Linked DNA regions of Homo sapiens: regions 2 and 3 are each reported to be linked to region 1. The links are microRNA targets in miRTarBase. Many come from high-throughput screens and were not tested one by one. Region 1 holds a microRNA gene; each other region holds the end of a gene's coding sequence.

Region 1 (5,176 bases):
CCCTGGCAGCCAGGCCCTGGGAGCACCCCTCCCCTCCTGTGCCCTTGACACCTACCTCAGTGAGGCAGCCCCAGCAGCCGGGCAGTGGGCGGCAGAGAAGGGTGTCCTGGGACAGAGGTTTTCCTAGTCTTTCTTCAGAATGGAGGAAGCCCCTGGGGTGCCTGGACTTCCTGTAGGACCCAGGGAAGAAAGATGGCCATTCTCCCTGTCGCGTGATGGGGGCTCCAGCTGTTTTACACAAGAAGACATATAACTTTCATGGTTAAGAGCAGGGGTTCTGGGCCTGATGGCTTGGGTTCGAATCCCGGCTCCTATGCATGCCAGCTGTGTTACATACTTCTAGACAAATTACATAACTTCTCTGTGCCTCACTTTCCTCCACTGCAAAACGAGGAGTCCTGAGCAGGTGAGATCCCCTGACAGCTCTCGGGACAGCTGGAGTGCTCAGTGAAAGCTCTTCGTGCAATCACTGCGGAGGGTGACCAGGGACATCGATAGGACGCTGGAGGGATTACCCTATGTCCCCCGACCCGCCCGACTACAACAGCCTTGCAGATAAGCCACGAGCCTGCCTGCTCCTCCTCGTGAGTTGGAGACAGGAGAGGGAGCAGAGTTCAGGGGCTTGTTTCTTTCTTTCTTTTTTTTTTGAGATGGAGTTTCGATTCTGTTGCCCAGGCTGGAGTGCAGTGGCGCAATCTCGGCTCACTGCAACCTCTGCCTCCCAGGTTCAAGTGATTCTCCTGCCTCAGCCTCCTGAGTAGCTGGGATTACAGGCCTGCGCCACCATGCCTGGCTAATTTTTGTATTTTTAGTAGAGACAGGGGTTTCACCATGTCGCCCAGGCTGGTCTCGAACTCCTGACCTTGTGATCTGCCCGCCTTGGCCTCCCAAAGTGCTGGGATTACAGGCGTGAGCCACGGTGCCTGGCCAGGACCCTCCATTTCTTTTTTTTTTTTTTTTTTTTTTTTTTGAGATGGAGTCTCGCTCTGTCACCCAGGCTGGAGTGCAGTGGTGCGATCTCAGCTCACTGCAAGCTCCGCCTCCCGGGTTCATGCCATTCTCCTGCCTCAGCCTCTCGAGTAGCTAGGACTACAGTCGCCTGCCACCACACCTGGCTAATTTTCTGTATTTTTAGTAGAGACTGGGTTTCACCGTATTAGCCAGGATGTTCTTGATTTCCTGATCGCGTGATCCTCCCGCCTCGGCCTCCCAAAGTGCTGGGATTACAGGTGTGAGCCACTGCGCCCGGCTGGACCCTCCATTTCTAATAAGCTCCTGGGAGAGTCCTCCCTGGTGCTCTGAGGGTGACTGACCGGCAAGGCACTTCTGGGGCCCCTAAGCCCTCCAACCTCAGCTGCTGTGGAGAGCTGACCCCCAGGGGAGTACGTCAGGGTGCTGGGTGGGGCACCAGTTTCAAGGATGCCCAACACAGCCCTCCCCTTGGGGCTGCAAGGCCCTGGGACCAGCGGCCCAGCCCTGTCCCCAGGCAGGTCCTCAGACCTAGGACCACAGGGGGGTCTGGGGCCCAGGCCAAGGGCAAACCTGCTGGGATCTGAGCCCCTCTTGGTGGCTTCCTGGTGTGTGCACATCCTTCCCCAGGCAGGAGAGGAAGCAGGGCCAGCTCCTTCTCCTCCCAGGGCAAGACCTGAAGTCTCTGTTTGTGTGTCTGTCAGACTTGCTGTGAGGGCCACAGTGTCTCCACTGAGGCCTTATCCAGCCTCCAGGAGGTCCCATTTTTCAGGGAAAGGGCCTGCTGCTGAAGGCTGTCACTCATCTGACTTCAAATCCCAGCTCTGCCACTTCCAGGCTGTGTGACTCCAGGCAAGTTGCTTAACCTCTCTGTGCCCACTACTTCTGTAAATGGGGATATCATGGGATTCTCGTGAGCTGTGAATAGCATCTGTTGATGTGTTTGTTTCTGTGCATTCAGACTTTCCCTCTTTCCTCAGGCACTTGCCGGGCAGCCTTCTGTGCCACATCCCTGACCCTGCCCCAGGGCACACCAGCTTCAGTGACAGGGATGGCTGGTGAACAGGAGGCCCAGGCCTGCTGCTCTGGCCGATGTAAATCCAAGGAGCTGTGATGACGCGGGAGAGGGGCGGTTTGGGAAAAAATGTGTGAAGGATGCCCCCGTGGGAGCAGGAGCCCCACTGGCAGGGGCAGGCCGGGGGTAACTCAGCCACAGGGAAGGGGCCCAGCCGGGGCTGGAGGGAGGGCCACCTGCAGAAATGAGCTGTGGGGGGGCGAGAAGGGCAGGCAGCTGGGGCTGAGGAAGACCAGCCCCCAAGACACCCATGGAGAAACTGAGGCAGAATCTGTACTTGGAGCCAGCCACCGCTCTCCACTGGCCCACACTGCTGTGATCCTTCCCACGCTGCGCGGCTGGCTGGAACCCAAACCCCCCACAGCGGGCCTGGCCTTCAGAGCTGGTTCCAGATGTTTAAATACCCAGCCTTCACCTCCCGTCACAGACACTTCCACTGGAAGGTGTTGGTGCCACATCCCCAGTGCTGCCAGGCTAATATGGGGTGGGGGCCTTGCAGCCCCAAGGGGAGGGCTGTGTTGAGCGTTCTGGACACTGGTGCCCCACCCAGCACCCAGCAGGGGCACTCTGCGCTGTGCTGCCCCTCCCCAGCTGCCTGGGCCACCAGTTCAGGAGAGCTCACCCCTTTGCAACCTTTCCCAACTCAATGCCACGCCAGGAAGTCAGGAGGGGGATGACCCTGCCACACTCTGCCCCCCAGCTCCCTTCCCACCATGCCCCGGGACCAAGACAGGAGGGCCAGCTGGGCCCAGGGCACTTCGCCAGTATCATCGGGTCCTCACCACAGCCCTCAAGGGGGTGTTCCTGTTCCACACACAGAAGACTGAGGCCCAGGGATGGGACTGGGTCGTGTGAAACGCCAGGCCATGCCCGGCCCCGCAGAGTCCTGCGTAGCTGCCCGGCCGGCCCAGGGCTCAGATCCCCTCCTCCAGGCCTGGCCCCAGCTGCTATTGGGGCCCACTGAGGCCTACTGGATCCTAACTGGATGCAATTAGGACATCACCTGATGCCCCTGTCAGGGTGGCTCCTCCCAACCGCTAGAGGACTCAGGCCAAAGGCATTTGGGGTGCAGCCCCCACCCTGGCCCTGGTGGGCCGGAGTCATGCTCTATGTGCCCCCCAGCTGTCCAAGCAGGGGTGTACAGAGACTCTGGGGTGGGGTGAGGGTGAGAGCCTGAGAAGGCTGTTGCGGAGGACACACCGGAAACTGTCACCAGGCCCTGCCCTCAGCCGACCCGGGCCAGGGCCAGGAGGGCCTCCTGGGGGCCGCCATCTTTCTGTTCTGGGAAGGCCAGGCTGGGGGTGAGCTCCATGGGGCTCCTGTGTCCTCATCCATTGGTGGGATGCGGCTCCCTCCCGGGGACCTCTCAGGGCACTGATAAGAGCCACCAGGACTAGGTTCAGCCCACAGCAGGTGGGATGCACCCGCCCCTTGGCGGGCCGGGGGTGGAGACCGGGAGTTTCTGGAGAAGGCCTTTCAGATTCTGAAGGCAGGCACTCCATGCCCCATCCCTGGAGCGCGAGTGACAAGTGTCTTTGTCACAGAAGGACAGAAAGGCCCTACGTGGCCCCTGAGCAGCTCTGGGGAACATTCTTGGTCCGGGTTCCTGTCTGGGGGTTCTGGAGTCTAGGATTCCAGGATCTGGGTTTTGAGGTCTTGGGTTGTAGGGTCTGCGGTTTGAAGCCCCTCTTGTAACCCAGGACAGAGGTGAAAGCAGTGGGGTGGACTGGGCAGCCCCCAAAGTTCAATGGACCTAAAGTGCTGGTGCTCAGCCCTGCCCAGGCAGCTGGCAGGTGGTCCAGAAACCCCTCGTTCTATGGAGACTGAGGCCCAAGTCTTTGGAGGTGGTCAGGGGTCTGTCCCAGAGCACCTTTGGGCGAAAGGTAGGGGGAAGACCACCCAAGACGACCCTCCCCAACACCAGCAAGGGAGCCCAGCATCTCCTCTGAGGCCACTGCCCTGTGGGTCCAGCCTCTCTGGGCTGGGTGTGTGGAGGCCGCTCCTATGGCGGTGTGGGCGGTGCAGCTCATTCCCCCGGGGCTCCCAGCCTCCCACCCCCATCCGGCCTCCTCCTCCAGAGCCTGGGGACTGGTGGATGCCTGCCAAGAACGCCCACAGCCTGCCAGGATGCGCAGGAAGCACACACACGCCTAATCCCACCCCCATTGTCATAGATCCCTCTTGATTCTGGGCCTGTCTTTCTGGGGGAAACTGAGGCCCAGAGGGATTGAGGGCCCCCAAGGTCCCCGAGTCTCCAGGTGTACCTTGGAGGCTGTGCTTTAGTGGGGCCTCCCCCGGCCTTCTTTGCAGTCCTGAGTGTGTGAAGGGGAGGAATCGGGGGCTGCCAGGCCAGGAGCCAAGGCCGGGGGTGGGGAGCAGCTGGCAGGTGTCCCGGCAGGAGGCCCGGCTAGGGGAGACCAGAACTCCTCTGCTCCTCCCTCCCAACGGCTTCCCACCCCACTCTACAGCAGGCCGCTGGCAGGCCCGGAAGGGCTTGGGAGCCGGAGGGTGCTTGCCGGGGCTCCTGAAGGCCTGAGGAGCTCCTGAGGGACTGGAGGCTTCGGGCCTGGAAGGCTGGAAGGCACTGGCCCTGCAGCTTGGTTCCCGGGGCTCCACGTGTCTGAATGCAAAACAAAGGCGGCTCACAATGAGAAGGCGGGTGCTGGGGATCTGCCCCCGTCGTGCATGTGTCACCACACGGTGTCGAAGCGGACACCTGCCTCCGGGATGAGCGCATTGGGCAACACTGCATGCTTTGCATTGGGAACATGTTTGTGTGTGTGCGTTGGGGGTGTGTGTGCGGTGGGGGGCTATGGGCTGGGATGTCCCTTGAGGTGATCAGCTCTCTACGTTCCGCACACACAAACACACAGTGTGACTGAGACACACATGTGAGTATTGAGATCTCCAGGGCTGACTTCCTGCCGGAAGCATGCCCTGGCCCCCGTCACCTTGTGTGAAATTCCTCCACCTGAGCACCTTCCCGGTAGAGCCACGCGTTGCCTGTGATGGAGGGGCCATGACTAACCCAGGCACTAGGCCTGGAGGCTGGGCTGGCTGCGCTGTACAGTTGCAAGGACCTGCCAGACAGCTCTGTGGACAGAGCCTCCGTCGGGGTTTCACCACGTTGGC
Region 2 (5,000 bases), not on the chromosome of region 1:
GGCCACATCCATCCCCTTCCCGAACCCTTCTCCCCCCCCATGTAAAATACTTCCCACGACCTACTGATTGAGCAGACAGCTGGGTAGTCATTATGTCTAGGGAGGCTGGATCCCAAGTCCACCAAGCTCCACTTAGGGTCAAATAAAGAGAGCCAGGGGATTGGTTTTTAGTTGTGAATTCACAGACCATGTTTTTCAGTAAAAAAAAAAGTCACTGTATTAATAATTGCAAACATTTAATGTGTATTATGTGCCAGGCACTGTACTAAGACCTTTTTATGTGTAATCACGTTTAAAACTCACAATGACCCAATGAGTCAAACACTACTAAACAGTATTCCTAGCTTATAAATGAGTAAAGTGAGGCAAGGAGAGGTTAAGTAATTTGTTCATGTGCACCAGATGGAAAGGGAGAATTGACGCTGGGCATGGCGGCTCACGCCTGTAATCCCAGCACTTTGAGAGGATTGCTTGAGCCCAGGTGTTCGAGACCAGCTGGGCAACATATAGCAAGACCTGTCTCTATTTAAAATAAAAAAAAAAATTATAAAAATAAAAAAAAGAAAGGGGGAGTTGGGATTTAAATCCTGACACTGATTGTAGAACTCAGGCTCTTAACAAGATGACCCTGACCAGATGGTAAGCTCCATTCATGCAGGGACCTTCCCCAAGGGCCTAGTGCACTGCCTGGCACAGAGCAGAAGTGTAGCAAATATTAATGGATTCAAATGTTCACACGCTAACACTGCCAGTAGGTTGAGGAAAGGATGGTGGCAACGTTTCCCAGTGACTGCAGGCTTGTGTCCTCGCTCAGGGCACACTCCCCAGAATCCAAGCCTAAGGTAAGGAGGCCAAATTAGTGTCATGAGAGGCCCTGTGGGAGGGGTTGGAACCAGAGGGCTGCAGCCACAGAAGGACCTTTCTTTACCCTGGTGGGCCTGATGTGCCCACGGGAGCACAATCCCTTGATCTGCAGCTTCCACCCCAGAGTGTGCTGGACACACTTCTGCACACTGAACCTGAGCCTTTTTGCTTCACCCGCTTCTGTGGAATTCCTTTTAGATGTATTAACATCTTTTTTTTTTTTTTTTTTTTTTTTTCTGAGATGGAGTCTCGCTCTGTCTCCCAGGCTGGAGTGCAATGGTGTGATCTCGGCTCACTGCAACCTCTGTCTCCTTGGTTCAAGCAATTCTCCTACCTCAGCCTCCCCAGTAGCTGGGATTACAGGCACGTGCCACCACACCCAGCTAATTTTTCTATTTTTAGTAGAGACGGGGTTTCACCATGTTGGCCAGGCTGGTCTCCAACTCCTGACCTCAGGTGATCCACTCGCCTCGGCCTCCCAAAGTGCTGGAATTACAGGCGTGAACCACCGTGCCTGGCCAGATGTATTAACATCTGATTCACCTATTGTGTTTACTGCTGCACCCCTAATACCTAGAACAGTGCCTTGGAAGTAGCAAGCCTTAAATCTTTGTTGAATGAATAAAAGTTAAGCTATGCACCTGATCCTGGCCAGACGGCCCTTCAGACTCCAGACTTGAGTCCTTTCAGCGCCTCCTACTGGGACTGGATTAGCTGCATCTCAGAGGGCACTTTATTTCCTACATTTCTAAGTCACAGGGGTGGGGGTAACTGGGGCATTCACTGTTGACCTCCAGCACCCGAAGAGGTGAGCTCCTGACGGGGGTTGGTTCTCATTCTAGGAGTTAGAACTCATACAAGGCCAACGTCCTTTTTCACAACCCATAAGGATGATTCTGCTATAGTTTTAGGTAACGCAAATATTTCCTCTCTTGGGTTTTGGCTGAAAAATAAAGAGGTCTGCCAACAGACAGCAAAAATCAAGAAAAGTAAACATACAATGCCAGGTTCAATCAGACATGAATCAATGGGAATACACATGGATAAACCCTGAAATAGAAACACGGCACCATAGTTTAACTGACACATATATATACTGAAGGACTCCAGAATGTCTCTCCCACCCCTAAAGTGCTGAACACTGCAGGGAGCTGTAACTGAGTCAGGAGCTATTTTAATCTCCCTTGTAAAAAAGACGTAAAAATGGCAAAGAACTGGACAGAATGCTAGTCAAGAATTTGTAACTATTCATGGATGAGATGGAATTCACACGTATTTTTATTTCTTCCAAGCAGGTACAGAGACTCAAATGTAACCCTTTGAGCTCTCATGCTTGAGGATGTGCTGCTACCTGGCCTTTGAGCTCTGTGCTGGCATAAAGCCCAAGGCCTGGGCAGGGCAGATGATCAAAGTAGGGAGAATTTTAACACCAGTCATGGGACACAGTGGGGAGCACAAACAGTAGGGTTTACCAGGCAATGCTGTTGATGTTGATAGTCCTAGCAAGGCTGGCAGTTCCAGGAGGAGGACCAGCACCTCCAGGACGTATGACTTCCCCCCCTACCCATGGGTGATGTGATCCTTCACATAACCATTCTGCTCCAAGGTCTGCCTTGTTCTCAAGTGCTATACGCTGATTCGCACCCATCACAATCACACACGTCTCACACAGACTCCAGACCCTGCAGCGCCCAACTGAGTACTCACTCACGCAAGGTGAGGCTCCTTGGCGGTGCCATCTTTATTATTCCCAGCCACAAGTTATAGCCACAACCTCTCTTCCATTTAAAGTGTGCGTCACCCGCAGAAGACAACAGGTGCCGGAGTTCACTCCTATGATTCAATTCTACCCTCCCCTGGCCTTTGCACGGATCCCAGTGGTCCTGGCTCGGATCAGGCCTACAGCTTACTTCCCAGGCATGCTTCCAGGAAGGCAGTTGGGGTGGGGGGTACCCCTTTATGGCTCTTCCCAGGTTACATGAGAACTGGTGATCTCGGTGGGGTCTCAAGTAGAAGCCCTGAATTAGTGTTCATTAACAAACTTAATCCTTTGTCCTAAACCAGGCTCTAGCTCAATTCAAAGATAAAGGGGGGTTAAACATTAAGAAAAATGGCATTTTTTTTCCACATCACTGATACCCCAAGAGAAGTTAATAGGTCTACCTTGTAGATGCAGGGAAATCAAAAGGTCAAACTATAATTTTTTATAAAAACTAATTTTTTTTTACGCTTAATTTTTTTCTTTTTTTTTTTTGAGACAAGGTCTTGCTTTGTTGCCCAGGCTGGAGTGTAGTGGCACGATCTTGGCTCACTACAACCTCCACCTCCCAGGCTCAAGTGAACCTTCCACCTCAGCCTTACCAATAGCAGGTACTACAGGCATGGGCCACCATGCCTGGCTAATTTTTGTATTCTCTGTAGAGACGGGGTTTCGTCATGTTGCCCAGGCTGCTCTCGAACTCCTGGGCTCAAGTGATCTGCCCCCCTCGGCCTCCCAAAGTGCTGGGATTATAGGTATGAGCCACAGCACCCAGCCCAAACTACAAATTTTAATAGAATTTTAAACCCAACCACTGGCCAAAAATCACTCGGTCACGAATTCCTAATCCACAATCACATCAGTAGGAAGGGAAAGCACTCATTCTAACACAGATCCAAGAACCAATGGCTACCCCGGGTACCTTAACAGCATCAACTCAGAACTTAAAAAATCAACTAGAGATCATCCAAGGAACGTAAGTATAATTCTACAAAAAACCATCTCATCCCCATTGCAGCAGGCCCCAAACTCCAGTGAGGCTTCCATAGGCCATGGAGAATGGGTTTGGCTCTTGTCACAGGGTAGAGCCCCATGATAGGGGTCTGAGGTAGATGAAAACAACAGGGTAGCCAGGGGCATCTATAGAAGATGTTACAGAGCTGCCTGGGCCTCATGACAGTTGCACCTCAGTTACAAATCCCAGACGGCTCTATTTGCTTAAACCAGTTTTTCCAGTGACGCTTACATGCTGACTTTCTTGGTTTCTATAGATGCTTGGTTTCAAAAATAAAACTAAAATAACAAAAATTCCAAATCCCTCAAATGGAACAAATAAATAATAGTAACAATATTTACATAAGTATGTCACATTGAGAGATTCCAGCATGACCAAGGAATGGAAAATCCAAGAATGTGCCCTGGCCTGTGTGGGGCTCAGGCCTGGCTCATCGTCAGGTGTGAAGACACCATGGGGAGCCGATGGATGTATGCAGTGAGCTGGGATGGACCATGACACCTGGCTGGGCTTTAAGTCCAGGGAAGCAGTGTGTGCACGAGCTGTGGGGCCGTCTATAGATTAGGTTTCAAGCAAGCAAACAATAAAACCCTCAGCTCTCCCGAGCAGCGTGGCACAGTCAGGGTCACTGGTGTGAGCTGCACCCTATCAGAGGAGAAGCTGCTCCTGGGGATGCCAAGAGGGCTTCTCTGATTGCTGGCATAGGTGGGGACCTCAGGACCCCCGTCCCAGGGAGCACAAAACTCTTTATACATCAGCTGGAGACAGGACAAGGAGTCAAGGTCAGGCATGGTCCCCTCTTTCTTTGGACTATGTGACAAGGGGGATGTGGAATTCATTTGTGTCGAAGATCAGGGGCCTCTTGGGAGGGTTCGGGTCCCTGTCAGCCTTGTGAAGCAGCTTGAAGAGCCCGGTTCCAATGTTCATTGGGATTCCCATGATGATGCACTCAGACACCCCTGAAACCAACCAGAATGAACATCAGAGAGCCTCTAAACACAAGGTACATTTTCACGAAGAAAGACTATTGGCTTAAGTGTCAGAAAATTAGGATGTGAGTCCCAGCGCCACTCCACATCAACTGAACTTTGGCAAATCCCTTTCCTTCCCATCTAAAAAGGGTGGCTGTGGAGTGCAGACAGGGGGATTCTGCACTTTCAGGGAAGGGCAGGGCTTGCTCACAGCCCAGGAGCTTGTTGGAGACAGAGTCAGCTCCTCCAGTTCTCCTCTCCCACCTGAGCCAAAGGCACCCTGGGAGGGCCCTGCCTTTGAGAACACAACTTAGCAAGAATACTGAAGGATGCTTAGGAAACTCTAAGTTTGCCACCCAGTGCTTCCTTAACTTAGAGCCTCCAAGAAAAG
Region 3 (5,000 bases), not on the chromosome of region 1:
ATGTTCTATTCCTATGCTAGTTTAGATGAAAGAGAGTTCAGGATGCTATAGGTAAATTTCTTAGGTTAAGAGGTTGCTAGAGAAAAAATGATGTTTGAAAAATGTTTCGGCCAGAAGCAGTGGCTCACACTTGTAATCCCAGCACTTTGGGAGGCCAAGGCAAGTGGACTGCCTGAGCTCAGGAGTTCGAGACCAGCCTGGGCAACACAGTGAAACCCTGTCTCTACTAAAAATACAAAAATTAGCCGGGCTTGGTGGTGCACGCCTGTAATCCCAGCTACTCAGGAGGCTAAGGTGGGAGAATTGCTTGAACCCAGGAGGCTGAGGTTGCAGTGAGCCGAGATTGCACCACTGCACTCCAGCCTGGGTGACAGAGCAAGACTCCATCTAAAAAAAAAAAAGAAAATGTTTCTTAGGACAAATTTTAGAAAAGAGATAGTTTAGAGAGTATAGTTTTAGAAATGGCTTGTCACCTTGGTAGTCATTTAATACTAGAAAATAGCAAAATCATAGGACTATGAATAAAATTAGTATGAAATGTTCTATAAATAGTCAATCTATAGAATTACTGAAACTTTATTATGTCAAATTTAATTTTCAGGCATAAGTATGAATTTCTGCACAACAGAACAACTCCAGATATAAGAATAACAGTTCCACCAAAGAAGATTGGCATTCTATTAGACTATGAACATTCAAAGTTGTCATTTTTCAATGTGGACCTTTCTCAGCATCTATATACATTTAGTTGTCAGCTTCACGAATTTGTGCATCCCTGTTTTTCTTTGGAAAAGCCTGGGTGTCTAAAGGTACATAATGGCATTTCAATGCCAAAACATGTCACTTTCTATTAGAACATTCTGATGTCCAGTTTCCTGTCTTCCATGCCTACCCCTCTCGCAGCTGCTCACGCCTTAGCTGGCTGAACCTGGCACTTAAGCACCATGTGCCCAGCACAATTTATGGCTCATGCTATTATCTGACTGGTGTGCTAGCGCTCATTTCACCCAACCTGGATTCTAGTCCTGTGTGCTGCTACCTGTGTGCTGCTAGGATAGTCATTACCAGGCCCAGCTGTAAAATAAAGGCTCAGACTAAACGAACTCAAAAGTCTTTGAAGCTGTCAAACTATATTCGTGTATATGCAAAATATCTTGAGTTTCCAAGACCTAGAGAGCTTGGGAGAGGACGAGGGTAGTCTTAATGGCTCCAGCAGCACCAGTACACCCATGCATTTCATGAGTCAGCCAAGAATACACTTGAGAAGGCGAGAGGCTGTCTGTAGAGAACCAGGGAAGCTGTGTGCCCTTCTCAATGTCTTCTACCCTCGTTTTCCCAATAGTGAGCAGCACTGTGGTGAGGTCCCTTCCACTGTGTACTCTGCATACAGGGTATTCCCTGTTCCACTCCTACACAGTATGCACCACTCTCTAATTTTGAAATTACCTCTATAATGCCTAATTCCATGAAGGGAGGGACAGTGCCTGTTTTGTTCATTGCTAGATCACCAAGGGCTAACACATAACAGCTGTCACCAAGTATTTGTTGAATAAATTAGTATCTTCTTCAGCCACTGCTCTTTGGCCTCTTACTGCTCTCCATGTGAAGGATGGCAGGGCTCTTTCAAAACTACAGCAAAGGACCTATGGCCAAGAAATGGGAAAAAACCTAGAATGGAGGCAGCGTGAAAGAACAGAAGGGCATCTGTGGCATATTAGCAAATGCACAACAATTTTTTAAAAGAAATTAACAGCCCACCAAAGGGCAAAGCTGAGCACGGGAAGGAAGACTGATCTCTAGCTAGGCAGCTTTCAGGCATCCTGCCTCACTGCCCCCAGGCCATTCTGTGAGCTCAATGCCCAACTCCATCAGCTACATTCCTGGTTCTCCTGTTCAAGTTTCCAGTTGCCACTTAAGCTCTGCACACACAGCATTTTCAAAGCTTGTGAGTGAAGCTGCAGAATAATTCCATTTGTGAAGCAATTACAATTCAGTATCATGTCCCACAGATGCCTCTAAACCCAGATATGCCCTAATCTCATCATTTAAGGTTTTGTGTTTAAAAAAAAAAAGTCCACTTTTCTTTTTTCTGGCGAAACCCCGTCTCTACTAAAAATACAAAAAATTAGCCGGGCATGGTGGTGGGCGCCTGTAATCCCAGCTACTCAGGAGGCTGAGGCAGGAGAATTGCTTGAACCCGGGGGCAGAGGCTGCAGTGAGCCGAGATTGTGCCACTGCACTCCAGCCTTGGCAACAAGAGCGCAACTCTGTCTCAAAAACAAACAAACAAACAAACAAAAAACCTCTGATGTTTTCCAGCACCTGCAAAGTCTGACAAACTGAAAGACTCTCATCTCCTACTAAACTCTGCCTACTCGTATAAATGGCAGCTCAGATTCCTGAATTAACAATTCACACTGACAATTTAATAACTCGTTATACACACACACACCTATCCTGCCAAGCTGGACTGTCTACTCTGAAACAAGGGACAGCAGATGTAAGCACAGAAATAGTTCCAGTTATAAACAATTAAAAGATACATATCATGTATATTTAAAAATGTTCTCGGCCGGGCGCGGTGGCTCACGCCTGTAATCCCAGCACTTTGGGGGGCCAAGGTGGATGGATCACAAGGTCAGGAGATCGAGACCATCCTGGCTAATACGGTGAAACCCCGTCTCTACTAAAAATACAAAAAAATTAGCCGGGACTGGTGGCGGGCGCCTGTAGTCCCAGCTACTCGGGAGGCTGAGGCAGGAGAATGGCGTGAACCCGGGAGGTGGAGCTTGCAGTGAGCCGAGATGGCTCACAGATCAAGACTCCATCTCAAAAAAAAAAAAAAAAAAAGTTCTCAGCTACTGAAATAGAAACTACCAAGTAAGAAACAGGATATCACAGAGAAGGCAAGTTTGAATTCAGGGTTCTAATAGGCTTTATGGAATACTACACGTTAGTATGAACACGGATAAATGGATTAAAAACTCAACACGTATAAAGTTTTAATTAAATTTTTATTTGACCAAGAAAAAACTGTCTAGAATTGCCTGACATTTAAAATCCACTTAAAGCAGATTAGCAACTTCAAGCATCACAATTATTCAGCATAAAGAGCCTTTGTTGAAACATCTTTCTCATTTATTTAGAAGAAAACATCTAGAACAGAACCAAGCAAAACTTTTGTATTTTTGTAAAAAATCTCAATTCCTGAAACTACTATAAACAATCTACTGAAACTGTATTCAGCAAGGGACAGATTTACCTCAAGGCCATGTTCACCTGCAACCTGCTGATAAGTCTGTTAAAAAACAAAGCAAAAAAAAGAGTTTTTAAAAATTAGACCACTGTAGCCACAATCCCTAACACTGGACAGTTAAAACAAAAGTTATCAAAATCTGTTCTTTTCTTAGCTTTACCTGTATCACTTTATAACTCCTGAGAAAGTCATTCACATAAGCTGTGGCCTCCCCACCTTAACAAAGGGGAAAAAGAATATGTAAAACCACCACAGAATCTTGGCGTAAACTAACATGGGTTTAGTAATACAGAGTACAGTATTCAGGATTTAAGGCACCCTTACAAGTCAGAATTGGAAAGTTGGTTTGAGACTTGCAATCTAAAATGACACTGATTTCTGATAAAATTAAATGACTTTTATTTAGAAAAGTGTGTTTAATAAATTACTTCCTGCTGGTTCAAATGACACACAATCACTTTGTATACATCCAATAAGATATTTCTGAAGTGTATACTTGGTCAAAAGTAAAAAGCAGAGCAAATGCATGGACAGTGGGGCCTTCTTCTTAATACTTCTCATCCTCCAAAATCTGTTAAAATCATCATCTTCCACAACTCACACACTGGAAGCTGTCCACAGCACAATTCACTGTGATGTGGCATTCTGTAAATAAGACTACATTGGTCTTGATGCAAGGCGGTTCAGCTACCAGACTGCACTATAAGAAAAGTCCTCTCCTCAACTTACCAAGAAAACTTCGCCAATTTCTAGTCACCTTCCTATCAATTAGTAGAGCAAGATTCTCACATGTTCACTATGTCTTTCTCCAGTTTTCTCATCTATAAGTGTACTACTCCTATTTTCTATAGGAAGACAATGGAAAGCGTGTAATTGCTGTTGGTAGATAAGTAGGTCTTGAATTTATTTTGCAAACAAGACCTGTTCTATCTACCTTTTCATTTAGGAGGCTAAAAGCAGAGTCAGCTTGATTTCAAGGACTCTATTTTCTTAGTCTCCAGAAGAACATAACCAAATCCAGCTTTTAAAACACTGTCCTTTAACAAGTCAAGATACTCAAATAAAGATCATGTATAACTTCAAGCTATAGGAGATTAACTCTGTACATATGCTTGTTTCACTGTAACCAATGGTTAATTAATCTAAATGCAAGAGAAAAGTTATTTGGAAAGAAGACCCCAGCTGGTCAGCATCTTTTCTGTCATCAGGAAGTCTCCTGGAAGGAGTATGACTATGACCTGGGCACAACAACTGCCCCTAAGTTAGTACTTATTTTAGAGTTGCTACTGAACAGGTGGTGGTTCTTGTCAAGTATATCATGTCTGACTACTTTACTGCTTGTTTTCTGCTATCACCAGTTCCAGAAAAAAAAAAAAAAAAAATTAAGCCCAACTCACTAATTGATTGCTTTTTCATTTTCCCAGACTGTGACAGAATCATGGTTTTTAGCTCTATTTTCACCTTACTCAAATCCTGGAGGAATTAAACTATCATTTATTTGAAATGTTACAAATTAGCCTGCAGTTGATTCAAACAACATGTAGTCACTCAGACATAGCAAATAAAAATGTTTTGGTATATGAACTTGGATTCTAATCTTGCTGTCTCTACTACTCTCATTCCTAAGTATAAATGTTAGGTCTCTTGCTTGAAAGGAATTTAAGAGATGCCCTTAAATTCAAACAGACTGGCTCGCAGAAAGGAATATAATCCATTCACTGGGAAAGTACACAGCCAACAAAAC

Evidence for each region. The annotated mature microRNA hsa-miR-4309 reads CUGGAGUCUAGGAUUCCA and lies in region 1 at 3,664-3,681, shown strand. An mRNA with a match to its seed (bases 2 to 7 or 8) in the 3' UTR can be bound and repressed. Matches are read on the target gene's strand: a 7mer-m8 pairs with bases 2 to 8, a 7mer-A1 pairs with bases 2 to 7 and ends in A, and an 8mer does both.
Region 2: miRTarBase lists POLR3A as a target of hsa-miR-4309. The part of its 3' UTR that is shown has no 7-base or 8-base seed match.
Region 3: miRTarBase lists FSD2 as a target of hsa-miR-4309. Seed matches in the 3' UTR shown: 7mer-m8 at 2,821-2,827.

Annotation. Positions count from the first base shown.
Region 1 is chr14:102,535,991-102,541,166 of GRCh38, forward strand. MIR4309 (microRNA 4309) reads left to right here and starts at 3,654; the gene lies at 3,654-3,736.
Region 2 is chr10:77,973,030-77,978,029 of GRCh38, forward strand. It overlaps POLR3A (RNA polymerase III subunit A), which reads right to left. Exons shown (of 31, transcript NM_007055.4): 31 at 2,120-4,597. The coding sequence ends at 4,449. Among named protein-coding and RNA genes, the nearest start is that of DLG5-AS1, 49 kb to the left of the region's middle.
Region 3 is chr15:82,755,202-82,760,201 of GRCh38, reverse strand. It overlaps FSD2 (fibronectin type III and SPRY domain containing 2), which reads left to right. Exons shown (of 13, transcript NM_001007122.4): 13 at 602-4,840. The coding sequence ends at 854. SNHG21 (small nucleolar RNA host gene 21) reads right to left here. Exons shown (of 3, transcript NR_110098.1): 3 at 2,996-3,298. It also overlaps SCARNA15. Among named protein-coding and RNA genes, the nearest start is that of SNHG21, 7.1 kb to the right of the region's middle.